Regions from separate parts of the Homo sapiens genome. Here region 1 is linked to region 2. Evidence: fine-mapped expression QTL. Tissue or cell type: whole blood. Region 2 holds a variant in brackets; the other region holds the start of a gene. All regions are shown on one strand. Distances are between the middles of the regions.

The links. PIP is the estimated chance that this variant, and not a neighbour inherited with it, causes the effect.
Region 1: EPAS1 starts here. The variant in region 2 is fine-mapped to the expression of EPAS1 in whole blood (TOPMed, PIP above 0.99).

What each region holds. Positions count from the first base shown.
Region 1 is chr2:46,294,167-46,302,273 of GRCh38, forward strand. It overlaps EPAS1 (endothelial PAS domain protein 1), which reads left to right and starts at 3,241. Exons shown (of 16, transcript NM_001430.5): 1 at 3,241-3,771. The coding sequence starts at 3,746. RefSeq lists silencers at 2,695-3,274, 3,505-3,834.
Region 2 is chr2:46,384,790-46,392,896 of GRCh38, forward strand. EPAS1 (endothelial PAS domain protein 1) reads left to right here. Exons shown (of 16, transcript NM_001430.5): 16 at 1-1,908. It overlaps LINC01820 (long intergenic non-protein coding RNA 1820), which reads right to left. Exons shown (of 3, transcript NR_146999.1): 3 at 7,504-7,694. Among named protein-coding and RNA genes, the nearest start is that of LINC01820, 5.3 kb to the right of the region's middle. RefSeq lists an enhancer at 1-158. The variant C/T (reference allele first, on the strand shown) is at 4,052.

The DNA.
Region 1 (8,107 bases), 91 kb before region 2:
CAAGAGAATCAGATTTGTCCCTTGTCAAAACAAATAGGTGTTTCACTGGTGCCACAGCTTTTGTTCCCAAACCATCCAATACAGGGTTGGGGGGCAGGTAGGGAGATTTGCTGGGAGGTGGGCAGTTTGCTCCTATTTTAAGCAGCTTGGGAGCTTTGCCTACCGGTGTCCTCTGCTGCCCTCTGTGGCCACAACATCAGTGTCTCTAAAGACACCCCTCTGAATCCGGGGACCCAGCTCCCCATCCCCCACTCACTGCCCCAGCATCACCTTTCAAAGTTTTTCTCCTCTAGTTCTCCACAGGCTCTAAAAAGTAAAATTGGATGCACCCTAGCCACAGCCTGCATCTGGTTTACACTCTCAGCTCCTTCCTGCAAAGGTTATTGAGCTGAGTCCTGGAAGAAATCTCAGGCCACCCGGCTCTGCTCTAAGCAAGGCTGGGTGCAACCCTTTTGAGAGTTATTATAATGAGTTTTTGGTGTATCTCAGACACTGCCAAAATCCCGGACTTGGCAAGGTGCGGTGGCTTATGCGTATAATCCCAGCACTCTGGGAAGCCCAGGTGGGTGGATCACATGAGGCCAGGAGTTCCAGACCAGCCTGGCCAACATGGCAAAACTCCATCTCTACTAAAAATACAAAAATTAGCCGGGCATGGTGGTGCACATCTGTAGTCCTAGCTACTTGGGAGGCTGAGGCAGGGGAATAGCTTGAACCCGGGACGTGGAGGTTGCAGTGCGCCAAGATCGTGCCACTCCGCTCCAACCTGCGCAACAGAGTGAGATTGTCTAAAGAAAAAAAAAAAATCCCAGACTCAATGCCAGCTGTTTGTGTTAGCCTGGGGATCCTTCACTTATAGGGTGCAGTCTGGCCAAGAGGAAGGAGCTATATAACATGGTTGATGGAATTTCTAACATTTAAGCTCAGGGGTACATGTGCAGGATGTGCAGGTTTGTTACATAGGTAAATGTGTACCATGGTGGTCCACTGCACAGATCATCCCATCACCTAGGTATTAAGCCCAGCATCCGTTAGCTATTGTTCCTGATGCTCTCCCTCCTCCCACCCCTCACCCTCTGACACGCCCCAGTCTGTGCTGTTCCTCCCATGTGTCCATGTCTTCTTAGGTTGATGTGGTCTTGAGTGACCCCTCCTTGCCTTTCCTCTTTAAAAACAAGATCTAAAAGGCTATGTTCTCTATGGGTTGGAGGTGTTGCCTCGATCTGTCAAGCACAGTCCAGGACTCAGAGGCTGTTGTGGTGAACTACTGTAGGCACCTGGAAGCCACCAAGGTGCCCTTTTCCCGCACTCTAGTCCCAAGTGAGGGAAATAAGCCTATGGTTAAGGGAGAACTATCTACCAATTTGAACTCATTAAAATACATAAATGTGTCCACTAGAAATGGCTGGCTGGAGAAGCCCAGTACCAAATCACCCCGTTCCTGAAACCCACCAGCCCCATGAAATAGTTCGCTAGAGAGAGATTTGCAATCTTTGAATTCGTTGACTATCAACCTGTATAGGTGCTCCGTGCCCCGAGATCTGAGAAAATGACAAAATACGTCTACTTCCCGGCCGGGCACAGTGACTCACGCCTGTAATCCCAATACTTTGAGAGGCCAAGTTGGGCAGATCACTTGAGGTCAGGAGTTTGAGACCAGCCTGGCCAACATGGTAAAACTCCCGTCTCTACTAAAAATACAAAAATTAGCTGAGGGTGGTGGTGGGCGCCTTTAATTCCAGTTACTCCGGAGGCTGAGCCACAAGAATCGCGGGAAGCGGAGGTTGCAGTGAGTCGAGATGGGGCCACAGCACTCCAGCCTGGGCGACAGAGTGGGACTCAGTCTCAAAAAAAAAAAAAAAGTATTTCCCAATTCTTCGTCAGTTTTTGCCCTCTCCCCACTTCGCCTTCTCCAGGCTCCTGAAAAGTATCTCCCCCAACCCTTTCTGTGTACACGGGGAAAACACGTGTTCATTTTTATTATGGCGCTGAAACCTACCCTTCTCTTCAAATCGCTTCTGTAGATCGTTCTAGTATAAAATGTGGCAAGAGGCTAAAGGGAGAGATATAGACCAGTTCTTTGGCCCTCGCTTTCCAACTTCAAGTTACACCTGTGAAACTCATGGGTCCTTCCACAGCCTTCAAAAACTAAGGGCGTCCCCTGTCCTCTCCCCAGATGTCCCTTCCCCATCGCCGGTAGCGAGTGGGAGACAGCTCAGCGCGGGGCAGGGGAGCACTGGGCCCGGAGATGGAAGGCAGCGTCAAAAGCGCCGCTGGAAAATCCCTGAGCGCTAACCGTTGCCTGTGTGAGCCCTTAAATCTACAAATTTCCAACACCTGTAGCCTTTGGGTTTCCCAGGACTTCCATCGACCCTGGCGGCAGAGAGGGCAGGCCTGAGATGCAGTGACTTGAGGGCACATGGCCAACTCTTGTCACTCCAAGATCACACTGGGGAACCAGACTGACTTCTCCAATTCTGAACTCGCCCCGGCCTCGGGCGGCTCAAAGGGCCTCCTCTGCCGCATCCCCGCCAAAACCAAACCGCCTGGCACAAGCCGGTAAGCAACCACCCTGCTGGGAGAGGGAAGGAAGAGTAGGCGCAGCCCTAGATCAATTTCCTTGCACTGCTTCTCCCAGACGGTCAAGTCAGCTGCGTCCCACCGAAAAGGGCGCATCGCCCACGCCCGAAACGCAGCCGCTGGGGGCCGAGAAATTATCCCCACCTGGCCCGAGGGCCAGGGACGCAGGAGCGCAGCAGCGTGGAGGGGCTCCGCGCTGGCCCGGCGCTGCCCGCGGTCCTGCCCTCGTTCCAAGGGCACGGCGCCGGTACGAGGACACCGACGCTGTGGCGCAACTGCCGTCCCCCGCAGCAATCCCGGAGCCCGGCTCCCGGCCGCCCCTCGGCCCTGCGCAGGCTGCCTCTCCCCGACGCGGAGTCCCACCCCGCTACCCGCCGCCCAGACGACCTCATAAACAAGTCCTCGAAGTGCGGAGGCAGGAGGCGGGGCGCAGCGCGGGGGCAGGAGGCGGGCCAGGGTCAGGGCAGAGGCTGCGGCCGCGCGTCCCCATTGGCCGGGACGCAGTGAGCCGCCCGGAGCTCGGCGCGGGCGGGGCCTGCCGGCGCGTGCCCGCCCACACACCCGCGCCGGTGCCCGCCCCCCGCCCTCCGCGCCCGCCCCGTGCCCGCCCCAAGCCGGCCGACGGAGTTTTTAAAGTGGGCTGCCGGCCGCGGGAGCTTTACACTCGCGAGCGGACCGCCACACGGGTCCGGTGCCCGCTGCGCTTCCGCCCCAGCGCTCCTGAGGCGGCCGTACAATCCTCGGCAGTGTCCTGAGACTGTATGGTCAGCTCAGCCCGGCCTCCGACTCCTTCCGACTCCCAGCATTCGAGCCACTTTTTTTTTTCTTTGAAAACTCAGAAAAGTGACTCCTTTTCCAGGGAAAAAGGAACTTGGGTTCCCTTCTCTCCGTCCTCTTTTCGGGTCTGACAGCCTCCACCCACTCCTTCCCCGGACCCCGCCTCCGCGCGCAGGTTCCTCCCAGTCACCTTTCTCCACCCCCGCCCCCGCACCTAGCCCGCCGCGCGCCACCTTCCACCTGACTGCGCGGGGCGCTCGGGACCTGCGCGCACCTCGGACCTTCACCACCCGCCCGGGCCGCGGGGAGCGGACGAGGGCCACAGCCCCCCACCCGCCAGGGAGCCCAGGTGCTCGGCGTCTGAACGTCTCAAAGGGCCACAGCGACAATGACAGCTGACAAGGAGAAGAAAAGGTAAGCGGGCGTCCGGGCCGATCAGGGGGCCGGTCCGAGGCCAGGGCCGGGCTGCGCGGGGCAGGCGCGACCGAGAGTGGTTGGGAGAAGAGTGCTGAGAGGTCTTCGGAGCTCGAGGCTCGGTTTGGAGGGCTGTGAGGGGGAGAGCATGTGCCCGGTTTGGGGGCGCGGATCAGCAGCTTTGCAGTGGAGACTTCTGCGGCTCGGAGGAGTCGGGGATTTGCGCGCACGGCGAGGCCAGGAGGCCGAGGGAGATGGCCTGGAGGTCGGAGGTGCTTCCGCGGTGCCTTTGAAAATCTCCCAGCCGCCCCGCAGCAGATTACCGTGGCCACCGGCGCTTGGAAATGTTTGTGGGTGCATGTCCTCGACTTTCTCTGGTCTCTCATTTTGGGGCAGCATCCACGTCTCTATTTTTCTCTGGATTCGCGGAGTCCTTCCAAATGCGCTCCTGTGCCCGCGCCGCGGCCCAAGTGGGCAAAGGGGGGCGGGAGGCGGAGAGCGGCTCAGGGACACGATCCTACCGAGGAGCCAGGACCCTTCAGAGCGCCCCGCTGCCGGGCTCCAGACCCCACCGAAGGTTGGAGAACCCACTTCCTCGTGCCGCACCTTGACTCTGGGGAGAGTAGGTAGTGAGTGACCTGGATTGCCCTGCGGGGGCAGATGGTTCGGTGTGTAGGAAGCGGACGGCAACACTGGATGTCCCTGGCAGGTCCGGGTGTCTGTCTCCGAAGAGGACAGAGAAGGGCAGCCACGATCTGCCCGCCTGCCCTCGCGAGCCTCTCGGCACTGGGTGAGAGGCAACTCTGGCCATTTCTTGCTGCCCTCTCGCCCTCTCCCGGCCGCTCCCAGTCCAGCCGGGCCCGGCGCTACCCGAGCGAGGGTTCGAGCCCTCTGCGCGGCCGCGCAGAAGCAGGCAGGGCCTCAACTTCTGCAAATGTGTGCGGCTCGCCGCCTGTCCCCTTTCTCCTCCTGTCTCCACCCGTGCGGCCCCAGTGGCCTGGAGCTTCCAGCCCCGCGCTTGGCCGCGGCTTGGCGAGGCTATGCTGCGGGAAGCTGGAATCCAACGCGCGGCCGGCTGAACCGCCTGAGCCGCGGGAAACCAGCGGCGGAGCGGCGGTATAGAGGTGCGAGGATGAGGAGGACCGACTCGCTAAGGGAGGGAGGTGACTGGCCGGGAGGGCTCACTGCCGAGGTTGATTTGCTCTTGTTCCAACTTCCACTACGGGACTGGAGCCAGAAACCGTGTATCCTCCGGTCGAAAGCAGCGGTTCCCACCTCGGGGCACCGATAAGGATTTGATAAACGGGAGCGAATCGCGCCTGTCCTGGCTCGGCGCCCGGGCCCTTCACTGCGGGATCGCTAGGGGAGGGGATTGGGCCCTGCTCCCCTTTCCTGGCCGTAGTCCCCCCTTTCTCGTCACCGTCGCGCCCTCAGACCCAAGACAAGTGAGGGAGCCCTGAGACTGCAGCCGGCACATTCCCAGGGCCCTCGGAGCAGTCCTGGGGTTCCATGTCTTTTGAAGGCAGCAGAGCAAGGAAAAGACTCTTAAGATTCCAGTGCGTTTTGTAAAAACCAATCATAATGCTAATAATGACTGAACCATCGAAAAGCAAAGTTATAGACAGCGCCTGCAGACGCTTTCGGGTCCGGAGCCGGGGAGGGAACTTGTGTATTTTACAACTGCGATGCCTATCGGGAATGTGGCAATCGCCGAGGTGGGGCCTGACAGTAATCTTGACAAATGTGTGAAGTGTCAGCTCCTCCTGCGCTCCTTAGCGCCGGGTTTTGTGCAGTTTTGTACCGTATATACCGAGAAACTTGGGAGCAGGGGAAAAATGATTTCGACACACCCAGCTACAGTACCTGGTTCGTTAGCGGACTGTTGGAAAGAGAGAAGAAGCGGGAATGGGAGCGGGAAGAACGTTGCGTAATTAGACTCCCAATTATTGGCGAGAGCGGCCGCTTTAAGAACCACTGTGGGGACTGCCTGCGAAACGCCTTGGAGGCCGCTGTGTGAGCTGCGGCTCCGGGCTGGTGGCCACGCGAGGGTGTCCGCCCTCTTCGACCTGCCTGGATTTTTGTGCTGCAGAATGGCAGGGCAAACAGCGTGTCCTTCACCATCTAGAGCCCCTTAAGGGGTTGTCCAATTCCTATTGGGCTAATCAGTTTGAGACTCATTTACTTTTCGTGCCTGGGTCTGTTTGCTGGCTGCAGGCTTCTTTAGGGACCAAGATGTAATTAAAATATGTGAACCAATACATTGAAAGTTGGTGTTGTCATGTAAGTGACTGCTGTAGCTTTTCTGAGTGCCTCACAAGGGCGATGTGACAGTGAGGGGGCTCTCTGCTGATGATTCTGCCCACTAGTTCTTACATTTTGTGTTTCTTTGGTTTAGCAGAGCAGTTTCTTCCCCCAAATGCAATATGGGCAGAACATTTGGAATATTCGTTCTAACAATGGCCCGTCAAGAAGTGGGCAGATGATTTTGTCCCAGAATGTTCACACGTCGATAAATATGTTAATGTTTAATAATAAAGAGTTTGCTTTCTAAATGTTAGTTGGCTGGGTGTCCTTGATAGTACCAGTTTTGGTGGTAGTGGGCATTTGCGGTGACATCACAGATGTCAGAAACTGAAGCCTGGTGGGTGGGGGTACTGCACTTTCACTCACCTTTTTGTGCACGCATCTATCAGGAATGCCTGAGTCCTTTCACTGGGAAAAAAATGTGGAAATTCTGGGATTCACGGGGTTTGAGGAGTGGTTCAGGCAAATGTAAATGAGATCCTTGGATAATCAGGGATCAAAGTCCAGTCCCAAAGCCAGACCTAGGTCCAGACACCTTCCCAGAGTGCTTATACAGTAGTGCTCAGTACAGGGCTAGCGTGGAAGGGGAATTGGAGACACCTGGATCTCCAATCTCCCCCTCCTTCTGACAGCTGGACTTAGTTGTTCCTCTTCTAAAATCAAATCAAACTCCATCATTATTCCAACTCTGAAGGGAAAAAATATTGCTGGACAGTTTCTCTCAATTTAAACATATATTTTAAATAAATATTCCCTCCACACTTGATATGTTTCCATTGTATTACCAGCAGCGCAGGATGATACAGAATTGATGTAACACATTGTTGGCTTGAGTATTTAAGTTTTAATTCATACAGTTTTCATGAAGTTCAAAAGAATGCCATCATTTCAAGTTTTTTTCAGTGGTGCTTATAGGGAGCCTAGAATTATTTTATAAGAGACCATGGAAATCATCTAGTCAGACTTTTCTCTTTCTGGATAAGGAAACTGATGCCGAGAGAGGTTAAAAGACTTCTCCGGTCACAAGGAAAATTAGTGCTGATAAGAGTCAGGGCTGGTCGCGGTGGCTCATGCCTGTAATCCCAGCACTTTGGGAGGCTGAGGCTGCGGATCACCTGAGGTCAGGAGTTCAAGACCAGCCTGGTCAACATGGTGAAACCCCGTCTCTATTAAAAACACAAAAAAATTAGCCGGGCGTGGTGGTGGGTGCCTGTAATCCCAGCTATTCTGGAGGCTGAGGCAGGAGAATTGCTTGAACCCGGGAGGTAGAGGCTGCAGTGAGCGGAGATAGCGCTGCTGCACTCCAGCCTGGGCAAGAGTGAAATTCCGTCTCAAAGAAAAAAAAAAAAAAAAAAGTCAGAACCCTGGTTTATTACTTTCAATTAAGTATGTATTTTCCTATTGTTCACAGGAGAGTACCCCAGCCCTGAAATATCTCTAGATAGTGAGGATGATTTCCGAAGGAGTGCCTTCCCCATCACAACTCTCAAACCGCTGAACCTTATAGAAAGGAGATTTGCTTTTCTGGATAATTATCAACACCTTTAGGCTGCAGTAGAAGTGATGATTCTGTTTGCTTTTTGAAAAAAAAAAAAAAAGGAAGCAGAGTTGAATTGATGCTGTTCCCAGTGTCTGTAAACTTTGAGAAGTATGAATTCATTGTTTTAGTTAGAAAAAAATCTACTTATATAGGTAGACCTCATTAAACAAAACCAATGCAAGGACCGCTCCTCAGTGGAGCAGATTGCTTTTTGAGGTAGAGAACATTCAAGCAGCTGCTAGATTGATTTTTGTACTGGGTTAGTTGGCATTTTCACTAGGAGTGAAAACTGTGAGACTAAACAGTTTAATTTACTTAGAATGTCCCTCTTTCTCTCTGTGTGTGTGTGTGTGTGTGTGTGTGTGTGTGCCCGTGCGTCGGGGGGGGGGGCAGTGGTGATTCTCAACTTTCTAGGAATTTATTAAGTAAAGTGTTTAGAAATGGAAGGAAACAATTAGATAATTCTCAGTGCTCCAGGATTTTAGGCTCCTA
Region 2 (8,107 bases):
TTGCCCAGGTCACCAAGCAGTGGCCTTTTTCTGAGATGCTCACTTTATTATCCCTATTTTTAAAGTACACAATTGTTTTACCTGTTCTGAAATGTTCTTAAATTTTGTAGGATTTTTTTCCTCCCCACCTTCAATGACTTCTAATTTATATTATCCATAGGTTTCTCTCCCTCCTTCTCCTTCTCACACACAACTGTCCATACTAACAAGTTTGGTGCATGTCTGTTCTTCTGTAGGGAGAAGCTTTAGCTTCATTTTACTAAAAAGATTCCTCGTTATTGTTGTTGCCAAAGAGAAACAAAAATGATTTTGCTTTCCAAGCTTGGTTTGTGGCGTCTCCCTCGCAGAGCCCTTCTCGTTTCTTTTTTAAACTAATCACCATATTGTAAATTTCAGGGTTTTTTTTTTTTTGTTTAAGCTGACTCTTTGCTCTAATTTTGGAAAAAAAGAAATGTGAAGGGTCAACTCCAACGTATGTGGTTATCTGTGAAAGTTGCACAGCGTGGCTTTTCCTAAACTGGTGTTTTTCCCCCGCATTTGGTGGATTTTTTATTATTATTCAAAAACATAACTGAGTTTTTTAAAAGAGGAGAAAATTTATATCTGGGTTAAGTGTTTATCATATATATGGGTACTTTGTAATATCTAAAAACTTAGAAACGGAAATGGAATCCTGCTCACAAAATCACTTTAAGATCTTTTCGAAGCTGTTAATTTTTCTTAGTGTTGTGGACACTGCAGACTTGTCCAGTGCTCCCACGGCCTGTACGGACACTGTGGAAGGCCTCCCTCTGTCGGCTTTTTGCCATCTGTGATATGCCATAGGTGTGACAATCCGAGCAGTGGAGTCATTCAGCGGGAGCACTGCGCGCTATCCCCTCACATTCTCTATGTACTATGTATGTATGTATTATTATTATTGCTGCCAAGAGGGTCTGATGGCACGTTGTGGGGTCGGGGGGTGGGGCGGGGAAGTGCTCTAACTTTTCTTAAGGTTTTGTTGCTAGCCCTTCAAGTGCACTGAGCTATGTGACTCGGATGGTCTTTCACACGGCACATTTGGACATTTCCAGAACTACCATGAGATGGTTTAGACGGGAATTCATGCAAATGAGGGGTCAAAAATGGTATAGTGACCCCGTCCACGTCCTCCAAGCTCACGACCTTGGAGCCCCGTGGAGCTGGACTGAGGAGGAGGCTGCACAGCGGGAGAGCAGCTGGTCCAGACCAGCCCTGCAGCCCCCACTCAGCCGGCAGCCAGATGGCCCCGCAAGGCCTCCAGGGATGGCCCCTAGCCACAGGCCCTGGCTGAGGTCTCTGGGTCGGTCAGTGACATGTAGGTAGGAAGCACTGAAAATAGTGTTCCCAGAGCACTTTGCAACTCCCTGGGTAAGAGGGACGACACCTCTGGTTTTTCAATACCAATTACATGGAACTTTTCTGTAATGGGTACAATGAAGAAGTTTCTAAAAACACACACAAAGCACATTGGGCCAACTATTTAGTAAGCCCGGATAGACTTATTGCCAAAAACAAAAAATAGCTTTCAAAAGAAATTTAAGTTCTATGAGAAATTCCTTAGTCATGGTGTTGCGTAAATCATATTTTAGCTGCACGGCATTACCCCACACAGGGTGGCAGAACTTGAAGGGTTACTGACGTGTAAATGCTGGTATTTGATTTCCTGTGTGTGTTGCCCTGGCATTAAGGGCATTTTACCCTTGCAGTTTTACTAAAACACTGAAAAATATTCCAAGCTTCATATTAACCCTACCTGTCAACGTAACGATTTCATGAACGTTATTATATTGTCGAATTCCTACTGACAACATTATAACTGTATGGGAGCTTAACTTTATAAGGAAATGTATTTTGACACTGGTATCTTATTAAAGTATTCTGATCCTACCACTGCTGGTGGCTCTTATTTCCTGTGGATTTATCATGGGCTATGCCAATGTAAAGTGAAGTATTAAGTCGTTCATATAAATTGAACATTAGCACAGACCTTTATGAGACTACTGAAGTGAGCTGATAAGACTGGTGAAGGAAAGACTGTGTTAAATACTTGGTAGTTGCCTAAGTCTGAAAATTCATATTGTATCTTCCATATTTCTGCAAGTATTTTTCTATCTATCTATCTATGTGCCTCGGGGCCATTTTTTGTATCCTATGGGGAACCCAAGGAAAGAAGTCATGGTCTCTGCTTTCAGAAAATTACATGAAGTCGTTTGAGAGCCACACTGTTCTGTATATTCACATAGTGCACTTTGGGATGGAGGTCCCGAAGGGAAAGGGGCAGCCTGGGCATTAGGACTTCAATTTGGAGGCGGCTGGGCTGGAGTAGGGTCTTCCCAGGTAGACTGTGATTGGGAAGAGCAGAGATCCCCTCGGCCAGAGACAGAGCACAGTGAAAGCCCAGAACTGGACATGAGCATGATATGTTCCCCAATTCAAATTTCACTTTTCCAGATCATGACCTGCTTGTGAGCAGACCTTTGTCTCCATGGAGAGATGGGGGCAAGGGGAGAGACCGTGCAGCAGCCTGCGCTCTCACTGTCTACCCTAGAACCAGCCATTCCAGCAGCATGTACTTTGCCTAAGCATTTGGTCCATATAGTATGGTCTCACATGTTTGTTAGCTTGTTAGCTCACTGGATCCTAGGTCTAAGCAATGCCATGGGCACCCATTCTACAGCTGAAACTGAGGATCTTATGACTTAAGCAAGTCACAGCTTGTTGATGGGAGAAATGAAACTGAAACCCCTTCCTGGCCAGTGCGTCTCTCCTCTTACACCTTAGACTGATGGCTGGGAGGCTGATTTTATGACAGGACCCTGTTCTCATTTCTAAATAGAAAATTCATGTCTTTATTACTTTAGCCTTTAGACCTCCTTCTGGTTCTTTTGCTTACTCTTCTCTTCCAAATCTTGGGGCCTGGACCTTCAGATTGGAGTTTCTGGGCTCTGCCAGGTTCCTACCCACCTTTGCCTGCCATCTTGGACTTCCTGAAAACATCACCTGTTCTTTTCTGAAGCTTTTCTGTGACTGACACATCTCAGCCCATCCTTCAGGAGCAGAGTTGCCTCTAAGCACTGGCTAATTCAGGATCCAGGCCTGGAAAGGTGCTATCCATCCCAGCCCCCTAACAACTGCAGGGTCCCATGGGGTCCACAGTGCTGTCCTTGGGCCATGATTATACCCTCCTGCTCCTGGGGGTGCTGGGCAGCTCAAAGCTCCTCTTGCTTCCAAGTCCAGCGAGCAAGCCAGAGCAAGCCAGGAACACAACGAAGCCATTGTTCCTGATGGGTCAGAGGAGCTCAGCCTCCAAGCACAAGACACAAGACCCACACAAGCCATCACTGCTTCATGTTTTGCCTCAAGCAATCCAGTGAAGACTGACTTAAATGCTCCCGATTTTGTATTTTCAAAATGTAGGTGACTCAGGAGTAGGTACATGCCTGTGTGACCAGATGTGCAAGGACCAAGGTAGGGGCCCGAGCAGAATCAGCAATCGTTCAGCCATTGGGGGTCCTCCTGATGCTAGATATATTCCCCTCTAGGCAAGCAAACCCTGGTGGGCTGTGACAACATCTCAGCACTTGTCTTGGTTGGCTGGCTTATGGATGAGGAATCTCTCTGGGAGAGGGACTCTGACCCAAGGCTGGAACCTCAGAAGGCCCTACCTAGTAGAGAAGGGCCAACCCTGCCCCTTCTGATCATGCAGGGCAAAACTGATCCCATTCCGCAGCATGGGCTTTGATGCCCATGTTCAGATGGGGGTGGAGAGTGAATGAACTGTTTTTTTTCTGGAGATCACGGAAATGCAGATTCATTTCTTTTACAACATGCAAGATTCAACCACTTAACATCCTTCCTCTCCTGGATCCCGCACAAAAGAGACTGCTTTTTTGTGAAAAAGAAACTTTTACCAGGAGGCCTGCAGAAGAACAGTCAGGTTAACCCGGCTCTTCCTTCCCTGAGGTAGTGGCCCTGGGTAAGACAGCACAGGATGTTATCTCAGATGCTGAGAGGGGCTGAGAAACAATGT[C/T]GCCCAACCCCATCACTTCTTTTTTTCAACCTCCTCATTTTAGAGATGAGGAAACTGATGCCCAGGAAAACAAAGCGACTTGCCTACAGTCACACAGGGAGTTAGTGGCAGGGTGGGGGCCAGAGCCCAGGCCAGCATCATGGGAACTGGGGCTGAACTCACGTAAGTGAAAGGGCTGTGTTCTCTGCCCCAGAGGTCACCGCTCACTGTCTCAGCCAGCACTGGGCCTCCCACATGGCCCTTCCCAAATCTTCCTTCCAGCCTCCTGCTCCTCACTTCCCTCCGGCACTCTCAGTTCTTCCAAAAATGATCCTGTCACCCCCATTTCTTCCAAACATTCCTCTGAGCTCAGCGACCCCTGTGGGAACTGCTTGGCCTCTCTGTGACCTCAAATGAAGTCTAAATCAATTCTTTCACTACTAGACTGAACTTTTCTTGGTCCCCCAGGACCCAGGAGAAAAGGATTTTGAAGTACTTCCCCAGCCCCACCTAATACACAGTGTTTAAAAATGATACTTCTTCGGCAATCATGATCCTTCCTTCTAGAAGCTTCCCAGCTAGTAGGGGAACCAAACAAAGCCCGCCTGGATGACTGAGACCCTGTCTGAGATGGTGTGGGATGATGGAGGCCCATGGCCCAGTTTTCCCAGCCAGTCCAAGCATTAGATCACGTGCTTCCGCGTCCCCGCGGGTGCAGCTGTACTTGGGCCAAGGGTCCCATCGCGGGTTCAGAAAGCATGATAACTATTGATGCAAATGAGCCCTTGGTTGTTTTAGGGTGGACTTCAACTCCTGCAAATGTCCAGAGGAGGCCAGCAGAGATCAGCCTGGGTCTTAGGAGTGAAGAATCTCCCACCAGAGCTGGGATGGAAGAGGATTAGACAGGCAGCGGGAAAAGAGGTCATTCCAGGAGAAGTGGACCAGGGAGACAAAGGCCTGAGGCCAGAATGAGCAATACATGCAAGAGGCCCTGGGGGGCAGGCAGGACGGGAGCTGGGAAGGAGGGGGCGGCCGGGCAGCCTGGCAACTCACAACACAGACCTAGAGTCAGACGGACCTAGGTTCAAATCCCAGCCCTGCTGCTTCCTGCTGTGTAACCTCAAGGAAGCCCCTTAAACATCTGATAGCCTAAGTCTGCTGTTCTGTAGAATGGTGGTGACAGCAGTCCCTACCTCATAGGGTTTAAAGCTGGAGATACAAATTTGGGTATGTGCAGTAGGTAAATTGTACTTAACTCCATGAGCTGGGATGAAATATGCCTCTGAGATAGAAGTGCAAAGAACAGAGGTCGGGAGACAGAACCTAGGCCACTGGTAGAAGCCAGACTGAGCAGGAGCACCCAAGGAGCAGAAAGAAATCCAGGGGTATAGTATCTCAAAAGCCAAGTGATAAGGGTGCTGCGGGAAGTAGGGCATAGTGAACTGCATTACACACACACTAGACTGAAAGGTAAGGGAAGGGGAAAAAAATTGACTCGGATTTGCCAACATGGAGCTCACCATCAACCTTAACAAGAGCAGGTTTGGTGGGGAGCTAAGGACAGCAGATTGGAGTAGACTGAGGAATGAGCTGGCTGGAGTGGGGAAACAGAGACCGTAGCAATATACAACTCGTTTGGGAAGGTTCCCTGTGCAGGAAAGCAGGGAAATGGAGTGGAGCAAGAGGATGACATGGGTCAGGGGAGTGTGTGGGAGTGTATATGTGTGTGTGTGTGTATGTGTGTGTGTGTGTGGTTTCATATTTAATCGACTTTTATCTTAGAATAGTTTTAGGTTTACAGAAAGGCTGTGAGACCATTATAAGAGTTCCCTGCACTCAGTTTCCTCTATTATTTTATTTTATTTTTAGAATAGAGACGGGGTTTCCCTATGTTGCCCAGGCTGGTCTCAAACTCGTGGGCTCAAGTGATCCTCCTGCCTCGGCCTCCCAAAGCGGTAGGAATATAGACGTGAGCCACCGTGCCTGGCCTCCTCTATTGTTAACATTACTATGGTACATAAGTCACAATTAATGAACCAGTATTGGTACCTTATTATCTAAAGCCTGTACTTTATTCCAGTTTTTAGTGTTACTTAATATCTTTCTTTTTCTGTTCTAAGGTCCTATTCAGGATACCACATTACATTTACTTGTCACGTCTCCTTAGGCTTCTCTTAGGTTTTCCCCACTTTTGACGGCCTTGACAATTCTGAGGAGTGCTAGTTAAGTATTTTGTAGAACATCCTTCCATTTGGATTTGTCTGGTGTTTTTCTGGTTGGACAGAGGTTGTGGGTTTTGGAAAGGAAGACCAAAGAGGTACAGTGCCATTATCACCTCCTCACATCACAGCAAGGGTACATTCCGCCGTCATGACTCGTTGCCTTGATCACCTGGCTGAGGTGTTTTGTCAGGTCTCTCCACTGTAAAGTTACTGGTTTTGGGGAGCCAGGAGGGACATCATTTTTGAAGATGAGCTACATTAGGAAACGTATATACGGTGATGGCAGAAAGTTGATGAAGACAGGAAAGGGGGGGATAATTGCAGAAGTAAAATGATTGAAAAGGTGGGATGGGCACGGATGGAATCCACTGCACCATCGAGGGGCTGGCTTCAGACAGAAGCATGGACAGTTCATCGTTTTAAAAGGGGGAAGGCAGAGAAGAGAGTAAAGCCTTAGTCCGTCAGGTGGAATTGGTGGTGGGAGGATAATAAGCAATCTCTAGTCTGATCGCTATTTCCCCAGTGATATATGAGGCTGTCAGAGGTTTGAAGAGATACAAGTATGAAATAGTCACTAGAAGGTCAGACTGATCGATGATCAGTATCAGAAGCTCAGGTGAGATTTATGGTCATGAACTGGCCCATGGCACAATTGTGTTTTCTTCTAGCCACACTGTTCTACTCTAATGGAGACTGAATGGGTGGGTAGTTGAGTTTACCAGGTTGTGGTTCAGCCAGGACGGTATGTTTAAGGGAGTGAGGAAAGTTTCCAGTAGGATGACTATTACGATGGATCACTAAGTTGTGTGAGAAGGAAAGAAAAAATGAATAGGTTCATGATCAATGAAAAAAATGGCAGGCTCAGTGAATTGGAGGTCTTAGTGAGGTCACAGTGGTCAGTGTGATATGTTAGAGAAAGGAACCATGTGGATGGGGCACAGTTGTCAGAGGAGAGGAAACTTACAGTTGAGATCTCACATACATAGGACCCAGCAATGACCACTTCTAGGTATTTTAAAGAAGTCAAGATTTTAAGTCCACACAAAATCTGCACACAAATGTTCATCCTCACCAAGAACTGAAAACAACCCAAATGTCCTTCGACAGGGGTAGATTTTTAAAAAACTGTAATATATCTACACAATGGACTACTACTCAGCAATAAAAGTTAACATGCTTGATTCAAACAACAGCATGGATGAATCTCAAAGGTATTATTCTTTTGAACAAAAGAGGCCAGTACCAAAAGGGCACATTCTATATAATTCCATTTATATGGCATTCTAGAAAAGGCAAAAATACAGGAACAGAGAACAGCTCATTGCTTGCCAGAAGGCAGGGGTGAGGAGAGATGAGGGCGTTCTCTGGAGTATTGGAACTGTTGCTTGTACTGTCTGTGGTGGTGGCTGTGAGAATCCACGCGTGTCTAAGAAACCATAGACCTGTACATCAGAAAAAGAATTTTACATATGTAAACTTAAGACATTTTTTAAATAAAAGCAAATTTTCAGATCTCAGAGGTGGCTGAAATCAAAGAAGGCAAGGGTCTGATGAAGTTGGGGAGCCAGGATGTTGTCAGAGTGGTCCAGGTGGGTGTCAGCGTCCGTGAAAGTAAAGGTGGATGGAGAGAGGAGCTGGGGACTGAAGTCACTGGGGGAAGAAAAAAAGAGTCTGAGGACTGAGAGGGAGAAATGAGTAACCCCTCTACGTCCAGGCCCTGCCTGACACCTGCCTGTAGGCGACAGAAACCAGCCTCAACCTGAGTGGCTGCAAGGAGCAGGGAGCTTGAGGACAGCCAGGCTTCAGTGAAAGAAGGTAAAGGCCCCTTCAGAGGAGGGGAGGCTCTAGGAGACAG